3 separate regions of the Homo sapiens genome follow, and all the other regions are reported to be linked to region 1. The links are microRNA targets in miRTarBase. Many come from high-throughput screens and were not tested one by one. Region 1 holds a microRNA gene; each other region holds the end of a gene's coding sequence.
The links. The annotated mature microRNA hsa-miR-3190-3p reads UGUGGAAGGUAGACGGCCAGAGA and lies in region 1 at 2,084-2,106, opposite strand. An mRNA with a match to its seed (bases 2 to 7 or 8) in the 3' UTR can be bound and repressed. Matches are read on the target gene's strand: a 7mer-m8 pairs with bases 2 to 8, a 7mer-A1 pairs with bases 2 to 7 and ends in A, and an 8mer does both.

Region 1 (3,000 bases):
ATGTGTGGGGATGGATTGTGCCAGCCAGTGTGCGCAGTATGTAGAGTGCTTGTGATGGTCTGTCTGGATGCTCCTGCTTTGGTCGGGGGTGTGTGTGTATTGTGTGTACTGAGTAGTGATGTCCGAGACTGGGGCCATCTCAGTGTTTGTGTGCAAGTGGGAGGTGGGGTGGGCGGTCAGGCTGGCCAGTCCCGTGTGAGTCCTTGTGTGTGTGCTGTGGGGGCCTCGCTGTGCCTCACTGCCCTCCCTGTGTGCCCGTCGCTGTGTTGGGAAAGTTGTCCCCACCAGCCCATGCTGTGAGTCCCAAGTGGAGTGAGTTTGTGTTGTGGGACTGTCACAGCCCTCATACACACACCTGCTAGACCCCTCCATCCGTCCTGTGTGAGCCCTGTCCTTGCTGTGAGAGCCGTCCTGTGCCCCCTGTCCCTCCTGTGTGCCCATCACCGTATGCACGGGAGGCTCTCCAGGCCAGCCAGGACCCGGTGGTGTCATCCCCCGGCTGGGCGTGTCTCTGTGGGGCCGTCACCCCCTCCGCATGCACACACACCTCCACTCTTCTCCATCTGGGTCCTAACCCCGGGTAGGCTGGAGGTACAGTGGGCCCTGGTACTTCCCTGCTGACCTGCTCCTCCTCCCGTGTCCCGCAGGCCCCAGGGAGCGCCATGGCCCGCGCACGCCAGGAGGGCAGCTCCCCGGAGCCCGTAGAGGGCCTGGCCCGCGACGGCCCGCGCCCCTTCCCGCTCGGCCGCCTGGTGCCCTCGGCAGTGTCCTGCGGCCTCTGCGAGCCCGGCCTGGCTGCCGCCCCCGCCGCCCCCACCCTGCTGCCCGCTGCCTACCTCTGCGCCCCCACCGCCCCACCCGCCGTCACCGCCGCCCTGGGGGGTTCCCGCTGGCCTGGGGGTCCCCGCAGCCGGCCCCGAGGCCCGCGCCCGGACGGTGAGTGCCCGCCCCGCCCCCGGGGTGATAGGAGCCGGGAAGAGAGAGGGCTGGAGACTCGGAGGAACTGGAGAAGTGGGAGAGGACGGGGGGAGGTGGCGGGCCCAGCCGGGCCACTGGGAGGGTGTGGCCAATGTGGTCTTTGTGTTGCAAGAAGCAGGAAGACGGAGGCTGGGGGTGGAGGGGGAGGTCAAGTGGGAAGTCCCTCCTGGAATCTGACTGCAGTCCCCGAATTGCAGCCCACTGTCTCTTCCGGGCCTGGGGCAACAGCTGCATCCCAGCTCCCCTCCCCCAGTCTGGGTCCTCTAGACCCCCTGGAGGATTCCTGTTGCAGGGAGAGTGGGCCGAGCGGGAGGACTGTCAACTCTGGCCTCTGGGGAGGGGTCGAGAGGCCTTTTGCTTTTATTTGCATCTCTTTGGCCAGGGGCTGTCCTCAGCAGTCCCGGCGGAGGAAGGAGAGGGGGAGGGGCCATTGTGTTGGGAAGTCCCCTCGGGGAGGTGGGGGAGTCTTGGGGAGGGAAGGGTTAAAGGTCCCCTGCCTGATGGGCTGTTAACCCTGTGGTGCCCGTGGAGCCCCATCCCTGCCGGCAGGCGCTCTAGGGAAAGTGTGTCCTGGTTTCCCATCCCCCATCTTGTCCCGGCAGCCCAAGGGGAGCGAGGAAAGAGAAAACTTCCCTAACTCAGTTCCTGGAAGCCCTGGAAGGGGACACCGATTTCAAGGCCAAGGTCACAGATGTGGAAACTGAGGCCCTGGCTGTAGGCCTTAGGGAACCCTCAGGCCAGGACCTGGTGGGACGGGAGGGCAGGAGCCTCCTAGGGCGCTCAGAAGTGGGGGGGGGGGGGGGGCAGGAAGGCATCTCCCGCGTCCCAGCCCCCCAGGCCCGCGCTCTGAAGCTGCCACAGTCTCTGGCCTTCTGGTCTCTAGGCCTCTGCCACATCCGGAGGTGTGGCTTCCCTGTGGTTGGACACGAGAGGGCAGGAGACCTGAGGCTTGTGATCTGGGTGGGGTCAGTCACTGTATCCCTGTGTGACCTTGGGATACTCCCTAAGGGCGGGCCTCAGTTTCCCTGCCTGTCACATGGAAAAGGCAAAATGTGGCCCCTTTGGAAAATAGAGGTCGTTAAGCCTGACCACCCCCGGGGTCACCTCTCTGGCCGTCTACCTTCCACACTGACAAGGGCCGTGGGGACGTAGCTGGCCAGACAGGTGACCCCAGAGCGGCGTCCCCAGGTACTTCTTGCTTTCTGGTGCCTGTGGAGGAGAAGCTGAGAAATTGACTCACTAGCGATGGGATCACTAGAAATGAGGCGGGGAGCAGTGGCTGGGAAAGAGGGGAGCAGGCCGAGACACCTCGAGGCCTGGAGGGGTGGTGGGTGCTGACCGCGCCCCTCTGCCTCTCCAAGGTCCTCAGCCCTCGCTCTCGCTGGCGGAGCAGCACCTGGAGTCGCCCGTGCCCAGCGCCCCGGGGGCTCTGGCGGGCGGTCCCACCCAGGCGGCCCCGGGAGTCCGCGGGGAGGAGGAACAGTGGGCCCGGGAGATCGGGGCCCAGCTGCGGCGGATGGCGGACGACCTCAACGCACAGTACGAGCGGCGGGTGAGTGCTGGGGGTGGGGTAGACGGCAGGTGGGACTTCCGCCGGAGGAGGGGGCGGCAGGCGGCCCCCGCCAGATGTGCGGCAGCTGCTGCCCTGCGCGGCTGGGTCGCTCCGCGGACAGGCAGGTGGGGGGTAAGTGGGTGGGGGGGAATCGCGCGCCCGCAGAGCCGCCCAAGGACTCCGCGCCGCGGCTGGCATAGCCGGAGCCCGAGCCAGGGCCAGGGCCAGGGCCAGGGACTAGGCCGCCGAGGAGTGGAGCTGCGCGCCCGTGGCCCGCGGCCGCGGGGACTGAGGGCGGCGCTGGGCGGCGCGGCTCATATATCCCGGGCTATTTATAGCCGGTGAGTCAGCAGCCGCGCCGCGCCCGCCCCCTGCCGTCCCTCTCGCGCGGCCCGCAGCGCCACACAGTTTCCCGGGCGCCGGGGCGGGCCGGGGACCGCAGGGGTGGGCTCGCAGCCCCGCCCCGCGGG
Region 2 (3,000 bases), not on the chromosome of region 1:
CACTCCTGCAGCAGACTGAGGACCAGTTCCTGTCCCCGACCCTGGCGTGCAGCTCCCCTCTGATCAGCTTCTCCCCATCCTTGGACCAGGACGACTACCTGTGGGGCTTGGAGGCGGGTGAGGGCATCAGCGATCTCTTCGACTCCTACGACCTTGGGGACCTGTTGATTAATTGAGTGGCCCTGCCTGCCCCCAGCAGCCTGCCCCCGACTCTACCTCCTCACAGACAGGCTGACAGCCCCTCTGCCTGCACAGGGACATTGGACACTAGGTGCTGCCCTCAGGGCATGGGGTCTCCTCGCCTTTCCTGCCCCAGCCGGCAGAAGCTGTGTGGGGAGATATGAATGGTACGGGTGAGGAGTGGATAAGGGGTGGTCCTCACCTTCCTAATGGAAGCTGGGCCTAGGGAGGCCCATCCAGTCTTCTGACTTCTGACCTCTCACAAGAAGGCTGCAGGTGAGGTGGCCAAGTCCAGGGAAAGGCCCTGCTACCTCCTTTTGAGGGGTAATTAGGACCCTCGACGTACCAAGAAGCACATAATGCCTTTGTATTTATTTCAGGTTGAGTTGTTTGTTTGTCCTCCCTGAGTTTTAGCAGGGAGGTTGTTCTAGTTTTTAGTGAGACCTCTGCAGACAGGCCCATCACTGTCCATGTTCCAGGGCAGGTCTGGGTTTCCAAGGGAGGGGCCCAGGCTACATCCTTGGTTTCCCCACTGTGGTGGGGGCTGGGACTCTGAGGGGCTGTCCAGTCTGCTAGAATGCTAATTGCACTTAGGCCTCATGGTTCTAGTAAACGGCAGCTGTGGGCCCTTTTGCCTCTTCCCCTGTTCTTGGCCTCACATCTCCAGCTGAGCTGCCGGTCTTGGCTTCCTGGTCGCCTCTGTCCCAGAGATGGTCCCAGGGAGCCATCCTAGGGCAGGTAGCACTGAGGCTCCTGTGGAAACAGGAGCCACCTGCTCAGGAGACCCCTTTCCTGAGGAAGTCCTTACCTCTCCCCTTGAGATGTAAAAATGGTCCAGCAGAGACAAGCTCCCGTGGAAAACAGACAGGAGCATGGGGGCAGCTGTCATGGCTGTGGCGGGCACTTTTCCTCAGAGTTTCTGCCTTGCGCTGGTCCAGGAGCCATTTTGCACCAAGGACTTGGTAGGCAGAGGCAGCCCCACTGTAAAGAAGGGTCAGATTAAAACAAAAAACTGCCAAAAGCATCCCCTCTGCCCCCCATGTGGCACTGGCATCATTCTCTGCTTCCCTGGGAGGAATTTTTTCACCATGTTATTGAAGGGGATGGTTCATTAAGGACTCCACCCCTCAGAGCTCACTCAGACCCCAAGGACAGAGGTGACTGGGGCTTGGTGACTTGTTCACTCCTTTTTTCCCAGGTATACTGAAGGGGTGACAGAGAGAGGTCTTCATGGCAGACCAGGCCTTCACAGCTAATGGGGAGAGGAACTCATGTTACCTCTGCAGGCCTGGGGTCCTGAGGGGGTCTTTTGGCTTCAGCCTGTTCCCCCAGAGGCTTGATCATCCCACATTGTCCCTTCAGCTCAGCTGCTCTTCTCCCCCACCCACCCTGGGATGTGGGTGCTCTGGGCTGAACCAAGGCTATGACTTCTGGAGAGAGGCTCAGGGGTTGGTCTGAGAGGCCTGCCATCCACCCCTCAGGGAGCTAGGTTTTCTCAGAGGCTCAGCTGGACAGCACTTTTTAGAAAAGTTTGTAGCATTAAGCTGGTTTAAAATATGAAGTTGGTTTTGTTGGATGGCTCCTGAGCTGACTGACTGATGTCTGAAGTTTGAGACGAGGGATTATTTCAGGGTGGGGCCCAATGTGATCTAATGCCCAGCTGGGGACAATTGTGCCTCATCATTTGCTCAAATTCCTGGGCCCCCAAGTTAGCCCCCTCCCAGGAGTGGTCAGCGGGTCACAGCTGCCCCCACTCTATAAGCAGGGCTAATTGTGTACCCTTTGCAGAAATGCTTTTGGTCTCCTACCCAAATACTCACAAGGGTCTTATCAGACGCCCGTCTTAAAGTCCAGCATGCTCAGGGACCCTGTGTAGGATCTCGTTTGTGGTGAGTGGGCTGCTCTGAGGTCTCCACTGGGCTGCCATTTAGCCATGTGCCATCTCTGAAGTCAGAGGTGTTTGACTCCCATTCCTTGGGCTCTGGAGCTTTCCCCAAGAATTACATCAGAGAAAAGGAAGAAGGGGCCTGCAGGACCCATTGGGAATGAGTTTAATACTGAAGTCTGGAATGTAAGCTCATGCCCTAGAGGCCTCTCCATATGGCTGGTCAGGGGAGCTGCCTTCAGGCTTGTGCCCCGTGTGCTCAGCAGCTGCCTCTGTCCCCCTCTACTGTCCCTTTCACACCTTGCCTGGCCAAGGGGCTAGACCTCCCAGGCTAAGCCTCAGATTCAGTGCAGGACACAAGCTCATGCCCCCGTCTTGCCAGTGACACTTGAAGCCTCCCGACTTCCACAGAGTGCTTCAGGACACATTTTGAGTGGTATTTTCTTTTCTTTTTTTCTTCTTTTTTTTTTTTTTTGAGATGGAGTCTCGCTCTGTTGCCCAGGCTGGAGTGCAGTGGCCTGATCTCGGCTCACTGCAACCTCTGCCTCCCAGGTTCAAGCGATTCTTCTGCCTCAGCCTCCAGAGTAGCTGGGACTATAGACATGCACCACCACGCCCGGCTAATTTTGTATTTTTGGTCGAGACGGGGTTTTGCCATGTTAGTCAGGCTGGTCTTGAACTCCTGACCTCAAGTGATCCACCACCTCGGCCTCCCAAAGTGTTGAGATGACAGGCACGAGCCACCAGGCCCAGCCTGAGTGGTATTTTCTTTAGGGACCAGGTAGACTTTAAAACGAGGGTAAGAGAAAAGCCAGTGTCTTTCTGAGGTAAATAATTTCTGCCAGGAAACTTCCCAGCCCCACCAGCAGCCCCCCTAAAAAAATCACTCGTGTCCCCAGGGACTTCTAAAGCTTGGGGCTCCAGGAAATCATCCA
Region 3 (3,000 bases), not on the chromosome of region 1:
TCGGTGCGTGGACAAGGTGTGGCCGTCCCTAGGTGCGTGGACACAGAGTGTGGCTGTCCCTAGGTGCCTGGATGCAGAGTGTGGCTGTCCCTAGGTGCGTGGGCACAGGTGTGGCCATCCCTAGGTGCATGGACACAGCATATGGCTGTCCCTAGGTGTGTGGACACAGAGTGTGGCCGTCCCTAAGTGTCTGACCAGAAGTGATGTGAGCTTTGCACCCTCTTTTTGGGACTGTGGCTCCTTCTGTGGTCTAACCCTGGGAGGGTCCTGGGAGGCCAAGACTGGATCCCCGGGTGACTACATAAAGCCTGGCGGTCTCGGCCTGGCAGAGGTAGATGCAGGGTAGTATGAGGCTGATGGATGGAGCTCAGGGCGCCCCGCTGCTGCCGCTGCTGAGAGCAGAGCATGCTAAACCAGGACTCAGCAGGCAGTGACTGTCTGAGGCCCTGGGCAGGTCACTTAAGCTATCTGGGCCAGGCTCTTGTCTTGACCAGGGCCCCCCAGTGACCGTAACGAGGAAGGGTTTGGATAAGAATGTGTCAATTGTTTCCATTACTTCTCTGCATGGGGAAAAAGGGGCCCATAAGACAAAAACATCGGAAACACAGAAAACATTAGATCTCTAATTTTAATAGTTGAGAGGAAGGTTATAAAATAAAACAGACAACACAGAGCTTCATGACGGCCTCGGATTGGCAGTCAACCCAGGGATACAGAAATGTAAACAAAAACAGAGCTTCCAGATAACATTACTGTGTGCTATGTGACTTTCAGAATACAGCAGCGTCCCAGACACTCTAAAGTCAAGTGAAACAAGAGATTTTAGAATCAATCTATACACATTTCAGAGGGCAGTCCAGGAAGGAGCCTTCCTCTCAGGTCAGCCCAGGGCTGGGCCTGAGCCTGAGCCCGGGGACGTGTAGACACTACCCATTTTGGGCAGGGGAGGCCAAAGTGGTTCTGCTTCAGGTGGGGTTTGGCTTTAAGGGGCTGCCCAGCTGGCTGTGTTCTGGGGACCTCTTTTGCATTTGCCTCTGGCAGGCTGGCTCTGACCCCTGCCTGTTTTTCCCTTTGGCCCACAAGACGCACACCTCTTTACACCCAGAACCCCTTTCCCAGCTGCAGCAAGGGAGCAAGGGAGCCAGCCAGCCAGCCAGGACGGGTCTCCCCACAGCCACTCCAAACCCCAGCCTGGTCAGGTGAAAAAGTCAGAAAAAAGGCAACAGATACAATTTGGTAGCCATCAAATCCTCTCCTCCCTCTGGAAGTTTCTGAGGTGCTGGTCATCATTCTGTCCCATTTTTTGCCACTGTGCTAAGGCTTTTGACTCAACCAAGAAAAGGGCCGGTCTTCCAGCCTGGCCCTGCAAGAGTGTCCTAGTGCTTCAGGTAGTGGATGGGCATCGTCATTCGTCCCACCTTCCTGCCCCCTAAAGCCCCAGGAGGACACACTCTCAGCATCAGGCCAGCTCTCCGGGTCACTGGGGCTTGGCTCAACAGGATGTGCAGGGCAGAGCCGGGAGGGAAGAGCAGAAGATGCCATGGGCTGTTCGCAGGAGCAGCCGTCCAGGGCGCCGCTGGAGGAAGATCTTCTAGTGGCTGTCTCAGCACGTACAAAGAACGGGGGTGGGTTGGGGCAGCCCCCGCCCAGAGCCAAGGCACAGAGGAGGTTTGAAATGTCCAGGATAAATAGAAGCGCACGGGAATGGAGAAAAGCCAGCTCCATCCCACTCTTAAAAACATCGCCATTGGCACCAAAAATATATTAACATCTGTACATTTGTCATCTTTAAAAAATAAAAGGAAATAAAACCTTCTTGGCACCTTGTAGTTTATTTCTTAGAAATGAGGTGATATGTGGAAAGGCTTCCTGTGCGTGCACACACACACAGCAGTGCACACACACAAGCACACGCACACACACGGCTGGGCACACATGTGTGCCTCTCCTTGCCGGAAGGACAGAGCCCTCCAGAACCCTGAGCATTAGAAGCCCTGCCAGGTGGGGGGTCTGCTGCCAGCCCCCACCACAGTTGTTTGCAGGGGTACCCTTTGCCAGTGCTTTTGACTCTGATGTCCACTGGGGACCTGCAGCCCCTGCCCTGTGCTGAGAGGCGGGGGCAGTGGGATCCTAGCTCGAACCTCCTCTGGGTAGGAAGTCCTGCTGCCAGGCACACAGTGCCTGTCTCTGTGGGCGGCTGCTTCTAATTGAAGGCAGCCTTGGCCTCATCCCTTCTCTTGACATAGGTACATCTTCCCAGGCTCAGAACAGCCTCGGCCCATAAGTCAAAAATGCAAAAATGAGCAGAGGTCATTGCTGGGCCTGAGTGAGCACGTGTGCCCAGGGGGGAGACCAAGGCACGGGGGCTCCAGTCCTGATCACTGGTGTTCGGGTGAGAGGTTGCAGGAGGGTGGGCTGGCCAGGCAGCTGGGAGGCAATCCTGGATGCTCTTGGGGCTTCCAGGAGCACCCCCAGGGCTCGAGCCACTCACAGGTGGGGGCTGCCCTGCAGCAGGGAAGTGACAGTGTTCTGTAGTGCCACGGCCACCTTCTTGGAGGTCTTGCGCAGCAGCGGGCTGTCAGGGTGGTGCTCCTTCAGGTGCAGGACGTGGCCCTCCTGGCTCTCAGATGTGCAGCCGCACTCCTCACACACGTACAGCTTGGCCCGCCGCTCCTTGTACGCGTACTTCTGCTGCACACCATGGATCTTCTTGAGGTGAGACTCCAGAGAGCAGCGCTGCGTGAAGGCCTTGTCACACAGGCTGCACTTGTAGGGCCGCACGCCTGTGGGGAGGACAGGGGCCAGCATCAGAGACCTGGCAGGGACTTCAGAGGCTGTCGGCTGCTTCCAGACACAGAAAGGACAGGACCCCTGCCTCTAGGGCCAAGGGATGGACGGAGGCCTGTCCAACACCAACTTCCCGAGTGACTCTCAAATCAAAACTCCTAACTGATGAGCTCAGGAGGACTTTGGCCCTGAGCTCCGGGATGCCCTCCCAGG

Region 2: miRTarBase lists E2F2 as a target of hsa-miR-3190-3p. Seed matches in the 3' UTR shown: 8mer at 2,468-2,475.
Region 3: the mRNA of OVOL1 is a reported target of hsa-miR-3190-3p. Seed matches in the 3' UTR shown: 7mer-A1 at 1,856-1,862.

What each region holds. Positions count from the first base shown.
Region 1 is chr19:47,226,094-47,229,093 of GRCh38, reverse strand. MIR3190 (microRNA 3190) reads right to left here and starts at 2,152; the gene lies at 2,073-2,152. It overlaps BBC3 (BCL2 binding component 3), which reads left to right. Exons shown (of 4, transcript NM_014417.5): 2 at 648-936; 3 at 2,340-2,530. The coding sequence starts at 663. MIR3191 (microRNA 3191) reads left to right here and starts at 2,075; the gene lies at 2,075-2,150. RefSeq lists silencers at 598-1,037, 2,258-2,557, 2,927-3,000, 2,588-3,000 and an enhancer at 1,070-2,012.
Region 2 is chr1:23,507,056-23,510,055 of GRCh38, reverse strand. E2F2 (E2F transcription factor 2) reads left to right here. Exons shown (of 7, transcript NM_004091.4): 7 at 1-3,000. The coding sequence ends at 176. Among named protein-coding and RNA genes, the nearest start is that of E2F2, 23 kb to the left of the region's middle.
Region 3 is chr11:65,794,829-65,797,828 of GRCh38, reverse strand. OVOL1 (ovo like transcriptional repressor 1) reads right to left here. Exons shown (of 4, transcript NM_004561.4): 4 at 615-2,783. The coding sequence ends at 2,488. All of the region lies in intron 4 of LOC124902693, which reads left to right. Among named protein-coding and RNA genes, the nearest start is that of OVOL1-AS1, 5.5 kb to the right of the region's middle. RefSeq lists enhancers at 1-9, 1,589-2,089.